Homo sapiens: one gene and its partner. The protein of the gene in region 2 interacts with the protein of the main gene of each other region in a biochemical or structural test. Each region holds a gene or a part of one and is shown on either strand. Other genes may lie near its edges. The genes, in order: ATF7 and NFE2.

Evidence for each region.
Region 1: the proteins of NFE2 (region 2) and ATF7 interact in a test that uses a peptide from one of them, tested with the Homo sapiens proteins (one large-scale study listed by IntAct).

What each region holds. Positions count from the first base shown.
Region 1 is NC_000012.12:53,518,103-53,521,919, reverse strand, and holds part of ATF7 (cyclic AMP-dependent transcription factor ATF-7), read left to right. Parts: intron 1-3,817. UniProt on the Homo sapiens protein: Stress-responsive chromatin regulator that plays a role in various biological processes including innate immunological memory, adipocyte differentiation or telomerase regulation.
Region 2 is NC_000012.12:54,291,401-54,294,920, forward strand, and holds the end of NFE2 (transcription factor NF-E2 45 kDa subunit), read right to left. Parts: intron 3,454-3,520; exon of another isoform or gene 3,350-3,453; intron 1,982-3,349; coding exon 974-1,981; 3' UTR 711-973; downstream 1-710. UniProt on the Homo sapiens protein: Component of the NF-E2 complex essential for regulating erythroid and megakaryocytic maturation and differentiation. Binds to the hypersensitive site 2 (HS2) of the beta-globin control region (LCR).

The DNA of each region.
Region 1 (3,817 bases), 770 kb from region 2:
GGAGTAACTATATCACCAATTTTAAACATCTCTACTTAAATTTTAATTTTAATATGTACTTCAGGGTGCATTCATTCATTAAGCAGATATTGATGGAATGTCTATTCTGTGCCAGTCACTGTTTTTCATGCTGGGGATATAATAGGGAACCAAATAAATTAGATTAAATCCCTGCCCTTGAGGAGCTTATATTTTAGTGGGTGAGACAGACAATAAACAAGATAAATAGGTAAAATATATGACATGTTAGATAACAGTAAATGTTAGAAGAAAAATAAAACAGGGAAGGGTAATATGAAATGTTAGCAGCAGGATAGAAATTTTAGATTAGGTGGCTTTTGAATAAAGACCTGAAGGAAGTGAGGGAGCTATATGCATTTATATGGAAGAAAAGTACTATAGGGAGGAGGATCAGCAACTGCAAAGATGCAAAGTCGCAAGGTACCTGGTACATCTAGGAACATCAAGGAGGCTCAGCTGGAGTTGGGGGTGGAGAGTAGTTGGAGACAAGTAGGGGACGTAATAGCAGCATTTTATGTAGGGTCTCATCAGTCATGGTGAGGATCTCAGCTTTTACTCCACACTGGGGGCCATTAGAGGGTTTTCAGCAGAAAAGTGATATAATTGATCTGACTAGGCTGGGCGCATGCCTGTAATCCCAGCACTTTGGGAGGCCAAGGCAGGCGTATCACCTGAGGTCGAGAGTTCGAGACCAGCCTGGCTAACATGGTGAAACTGCTTCTACTAAAAATACAAAAAATTAGCTGGGCGTGGTGGCATGCGCCTGTAATCCCAGCTACTTGGGAGCCTGAGGCAGGAGAATCACTTGAACCTGGGAAGCGGAGGTTGCAGTGAGCTGAGATGGTGCCATTGCGCTCCAGCCTGGGCAACAAGAGGGAAATTCCGTCTCAAAAAAAAAAAAAAAATTGATCTGACTTACATTTGAACAGGACATCAGGGGTACAAGGGCAGAAGCAGGCAGTCCACTTAGGGGCTGTTACGGTAATACAAGCAAGGGATGACGGTAGTGAAAGTGACGAGAGCAGGCTGAATCCAGGATATGTTTTGAAGTTAAAGTGATGAGAGCAGATGGGATGGTATATATGAGAAAAAGAATAAAAAATTACACCAAAGTTTCTGGCTTAAGCAACCACAAGAATGAAGTTGTCATTAATTGAGATAGGGTAAAGTGTAGGGGAAATGGTTTGGGAGGTATATCAGGAACTCAGTTTTGGACAAACTGAGTTTAAGGAGCCTATTAGGCTTACAGGTGGAGATGTCAAGCAGTCAGTTGGTTATATGGATTTGTAATTCAGAGGAAAGGCTGAAGATAAAACTCTGGGAGTCGGCAGCATATAGCTAGTTTTGGTTTTGTTTGGTTTGGGATTTTTTGGAGGCAGGGTCCACCTCTGTCTCCCAGGCTCTCAAGTGATCCTCCCCACTCAGCCTGAGTAACTGGGACCACAGGCGTGCACCACCATGCCCAGCTAATTTTTTTTTGTTATTTTAGAGATGATGTTTTGCCATATTGGCCAGGCTGGTCTCAGACTCCAGGACTTAAGGGATCTGCCCGCCTTGGCCTCCCAAAGTGCTGGAATTACATGTGTGAGTCACCACACCTGGCCATAGTTAGTTTTTAAAGCATTGAAACCAGATGAAGTTCCCAAGGGAGACAGCAGAGCTAGAAAAAGAGAAGTCCCAGGAATGAACCATGGGGTACTCCAACATTTACAGTTCATAGAAATGAGAAAGAACCCACAAGAGACTGAGAAGAAACAACCAGGAAGTGAGGAGGAAAACCAGCTACAGAGCCAAATGTGGTATTCTGTAAATCAAAATAAAAAAGTGTTTCAAGAAGTTCAGTGATTTTAAATCCTGTTGCTCGGTGGCTCACGCCTGTAATCCCAGCACTTTGGGAGGCTGAGGCGGGCGGATCACGAGGTCAGGAGATCGAGACCATCCTGGCTAACACGGTGAAACCCCATCTCTACTAAAAATAAAAAAAATCAGCCAGGCATGGTGGCGTGCATCTGTAGTCCCACCTAGTTGGGAAGCTGAGGCAGGAGAATCGCTTGAACCCAGGAGGCAGAGATTGCAGTGAGCCAAAATAGTGCCACTGCACTCCAGCCTGGGTGATAGAGCAAGACTCTGTCTAAAAAAATACCAAAAAAACAAATCCTGTTGATGGGCTAAAGAGGATAAGGACTGTTTATCAGTATATAATCTATATACGGTCAGTTTTCCACTTAGTCCCTGCAAGAACTCTGATACATAGTTAATCCATTAAACTACTTATTCTTTTTTTTTCTCCTGCCTCAGCCTCCCGAGTAGCTGGGACTACAGGCGGGCACCACCACGCCCAGCTCATTTTTGTATTTTTAGTAGAGACGGGGTTTCACCATGTTCCCCAGGCTAGTCTCCAATTCTTGGCTTCATGTGATCTGCCCACCTCTGTCTCCCAAAGTGCTAGGATTACAGGTGTGAGCCACCGCACCCGGCCTTACATATTCATTATAGCAAAGATGTATTTAGTTCCTGCTGTGTGGTATAGATATTATGTAAGTACCTGACACATGATGAATAAGACACTGTCACTACCTCTGAGAGAATCATAGGGTCATATAAACCTGTGGATGAGGTAAGGATAGATATCCCAGTTAAAAAGCCCCTAAACTGGGAGCTTCCTAAGGATAGGGTTCCCGTTTTCTTCTCTGTGTACCCATGCCTGGTACATGGATGATGCTCAGTAAAATGTTTGATGAATATATGCTGTGAAAACACAAAGAATAAAACAGTTAATGTACTGAGGGTAACAAAGATGGCTTCACAGAGGACGCAATATTTGAATCTTTTTTTTTTTTTTTTTGAGACGGAGTCTCGCTCTGTTGCCCAGGCTGGAGTGCAGTGGCACAATCTCGGCTCACTGCAAGCTCTGCCTCCCGGGTTCACACCATTCTCCTGCCTCAGTCTCCCAAGTAGCTGGGACAACAGGCGCCCGCCACCATGCCCAGCTAATTTTTTGGTTTTTTTTTTTTTTGAGTAGAGACGGGGTTTCACCATGTTAGCCAGGGTAGTCTCGATCTCCTGACCTCCTGATCCGCCCAGCTTGGCCTCTGAAAGTGCTGGGATTACAGGCGTGAGCCACTGCGCCCGGCCATATTTGAATCTTAAAAGAAGACTCAGGCATTCATCAGGATGTCAGAAATACAACTGACTATGGAACGTTTGCCTTTTTTCCACATATTTCTGTTTAAGCAGCCATAGAGGCTATCCGATGTTTAATAAAACTCCTTGACTTGCTGAGTGTGATGACTCATACCTGTAATCCCGGCAATTTGGGAGTCTGAAGCAGGAGGATGGCTTGAGGCCAGCAGTTGAAGGCTGCTGTGAGCTGTGATTGTGCCATGGCACCTCCAGCCTGGGTGACAGAGTGAGACCCTCTAAAAAAATTTTAAAAACATTTGACTAATGAGCAACATGGAGTTACCATTGTATGTAGCTCAGGTAGTTGTGTTTAGTAGTAAAATGTTAGTGTCACTTTAGGTGGAGTGGCATAACTTATAATGTTTTATAATCATTAATGCCTAGCTAATTTTTAGTCAGGAGGGTCTTAAGATTTCTTTGTAGTTTTACATGTTAACTGAACCCGGGCCAGGGACTGGCCATTCATAATATCATTTAATTATAGCTTGATATCTATCAGACTTACCTGTGGTACAACTACATGGTAAAGGAACATTAAAAATAATGGAATAGGCCTGCCACAGTGGCTCACGCCTATAATCCCAGCACTTTGGGAGGCCAAGGCAGGCCAATC
Region 2 (3,520 bases):
GAACTCTGGCACATTAGGAGGACCCAGGCTGAGAGGTAAGCAGGAGGGGAAGAAAAAAAGAAAGGCCTATGGGCATCCTGGGCTTTTTTGTGCTGGGAGAATTGAGAGAAAAGAGACGTAAACATCAGGAACCTTTGCACAGGGTGTCTAGTCAGTTTGGACAGCTCTCCAAGCTCTACAAATAGGGCACCACCAGGGAGTGTGGGGTTCTTCAGATCATCCATGGCCTCTGACTCTGAAAAGGAGGTGAAGGTGGTAGATCCCCATACTGCTCAAGCCCAGATTTTTTTTTTTTTTTTTGTAGATGGAGTCTCGCTCTGTCACCCAGGCTAGAGTGCAGTGGCGCAATCTCAGCTCACTGCAACCTCTACCTCCCGGATTCCAGTGATTCTCCTGCCTCAGCCTCCTGAGGAACTGGGATTACAGGCGTGCACCACCACACCCAGCTAATTTTTGTACTTTTAGTAGAAATGGGGTTTCACCATTTTGGCCAGGTTGGTCTCGAACTCCTGACCTTGTGATCTGCCCATCTCGGCCTCCCGAAGTGCTGGGATTACAGGTGTGAGCCACCATGCTCAGCCTCAAGCCCAAATTTTATGGTACCTCTCATACAGAGCTCTGGGGAGAATGAAGTGAACTTGGTAAGATTCAAACAGATAATTATCTCAGCTTCCACCCTCCCTCAAGAAGGAAGACACAGTGAAAAGCCATTTCTGTAGCGCACTTTATAGACCAAAGCTTAGACAAGGTGGAGGCTAAAGACCTGAGGAGCCGAGTCAGGGAAGACAGATTCCAGCCCTCCCTCAAGGCAAGCCTCTTTGAACACACCTTGGAACTTCCAAACACTTGTTGCCATTGTCATCCTCTTCTGGTCTAGAGAACTCAGCTCCTTCTGGGACTCAGGGTTGGGGAGTACCTTTATCAGAAGGGAATGAAGGAAATCCCATCAGCAGTTCCACCCCTCTGGGCCAGCTCAGTCTGTGGCCTCCATCTTGGTCCCCCGGGGCACAAGGAAGATGGTCCCATCGGCAGCCTGTTGCAGCGCGTACTCTTCAGGAGAGTAGCTGTTGCCTGATTCATCCCGAAGGTGCTGGAAAATGTCACGGTACAGCTCTGTCAGCTGTTGGCGCATGACCTCCAGGGTCCGGTCTGCCTCCCCGCGGGCCCTGAGAAGCCGCTCCCGTTCATTGGTCAGCCGCTCCAGCTCCCGCTCCAGCTGCACAATGGTTTCCAGCTTCCTCTTGCGGCAGTTCTGGGCTGCCACCTTGTTTTTGCCCCGTCGTCGGATGTCCCGGACTAGCGCTAGCTGGCTCTCTGTCAGCGGGTACCTTGCCAATAGCTCATTAAAGTCATCTACCGGCAAGTTGACAATCTTGTCCGTAGGAAAAGGAATCTTCATGGCCAAGGCCCGACGTTCATCCCGACTCCCTGCCTCCCCCCGTGCAGTGGGCTTAGCCCGCACAGGGCCTGAGGAGGGCTCTAAGGCCAAGGGGGTCTCAGCAGCTGGCAAGGTATAGTTGGAGTGGGCCAAGGAGTTGGGCATGAGTGAGTAGGGGTACTCCACTGGGTACATCTCTACATATTCGCTGCGCCGCCGACCAGCCTCTGTCCCCTCCAGCTCAAGAGATTCAGCATCGCTATAGTTGAGGGATAATCCTGAGTCGGATTCTGGGTCTTCTTGGGGCTTAGGTGGCCCTGCTGGCAGCCCAATGTCCAGGAGGGCTAAGGGGTCTTGGAGCGGCTCACTGAGCAGGCCTGAGAGGCTCAGTGGCTTGGAGACTGGTATGGCCATGTTGCCATAGGAGTATGGGGGATCTGGGACATGGGATGTGGATGCTGGGAGCTCATAAGGTGGTGGAGGAAGTGGGAAGCCAGAATCTGGGTGGATTGAGCAGGGGCAGTAAGTTGTGGGTGGTGGAGGTCCAAGGTATGGAGCTGGGGCTTGGGGCTCAAATGATGGCTCACTTGGAGCATTCAGACCCTGCAAGGAAAGACACAAAGAGATTTGGAGACAGACTAAGGAAGAGAAACCAACACTCTCTCAGGAACAAGCTGGATTCTTCTGAAAGTCGCAGTGAGGTAGTAACAAGGAAACAAAGTTGCCACAAATCACGGGAAGCTTCCTGCAAAGTTATGATACAGTTGTTGCAAGAAAAATGCAGCTTAAAGCCAGGAATGGTGGCTCACACCTATAATCCCAACACTATGGGAGGCCAAGGCGGCAGATCACCTGAGGTCAGGAGTTCGAGACCAGCCTGGACAACATGGTGAAACCCCATCTCTGCTAAAAATACAAAAATTAGCTGGGCATGGTGGTGAATGCCTGTAATCCCAGCTACTTGGGAGGCTGAGGCAGGAGAACTGCTTGAACCCCGGAGGTGGAGGTTGAAGTGAGCCAAGATAGTGCCACTATCCAGCCTGGGCGACAGAGCAAGACTCCCTCTCAAAAAAAGAAAAAATGAAAAATGCAGCTTTAGCAAGAATGGAAGTCACTGAGGTTGGACTGCAGAAAAGACTACCTAACATTGGAACAATTATGAACTCTCCTTGGAGAAGCTCTTACTGGGTTGAAATGGCTCATGTTCGGCCAGGCATGGTGGCTCAGGCCTGTAATCCCAGCACTTTGGGAGGCCAAGGCGGGCGGATCACAGGATCAGATCAAGAACGTCCTGGCTAACACGGTGAAACCCCCTGTCTACTAAAAATACAAAAAATTAGCTGGGGTGGTGGCAGGCGCCTGTAGTCCCAGCTACTTGGGAGGCTGAGGCAGGAGAATGATGTGAACCAAGATTGCACCACTGCACTCCAGCCTGGGCGCCAGAGCGAGACACCGTCTCAAAAAAAAAAAAAAAAGAAATGGCTCATGTTCCTTTATTTCCTTCAGGAAGTCAAAGCCTTTTTATCCAAGATGACCCCTCAGAACCCTTTCCTGCTGCAGTTATCTAGGGTCAAAGGGTCAAGTTCAGATCCTGGCCATGCCCCAGATGCCCAGCAGAGGGAGCCGCTGTGTGGGAAGAGGGCCTAGGGCAGATCCTGAGGGTGCTAAGCATGGTAGCAGGGTAGTAAAAGGGGGGTGGCTGGGGGCTAAGAAGCACCTTGGGGAGCCAGCACAAGCTCTGCCTTCTCCTCTTCAGTCCCTCTGTCCCTGCCCAGGTGCAGCGAGAAGTAGAGAACATGCTAGAAACAAGGCCCCCAACCTACATCAGGGAGCCACCCTGCTCCAGCCCAGCTGGGGACAAAGGCATCATTGTCAAGCCAACAGACACCCCTTTGTCCAAGTAGCAGGAGGAGAGGACCCTGGCATAGTCCGACTCCCCTTCCTGAGGCCCCTGAACTACTGCTCTGTTACCTGGGGTAAACGGGCCCAGTTGCCAAGGGCAGGCGGAGGTAATGAGGGAAGAAGATGGCAGGATCAGAGAGGCAGGTCAGAAGAGAAGAAGGTGAGCACGGGAGGGAGAGCAGGAGGTGGGGTAGAGAGAGATGTGAGTCAAGTGGCTGCTGAGAGAGCCTACACTCCCAA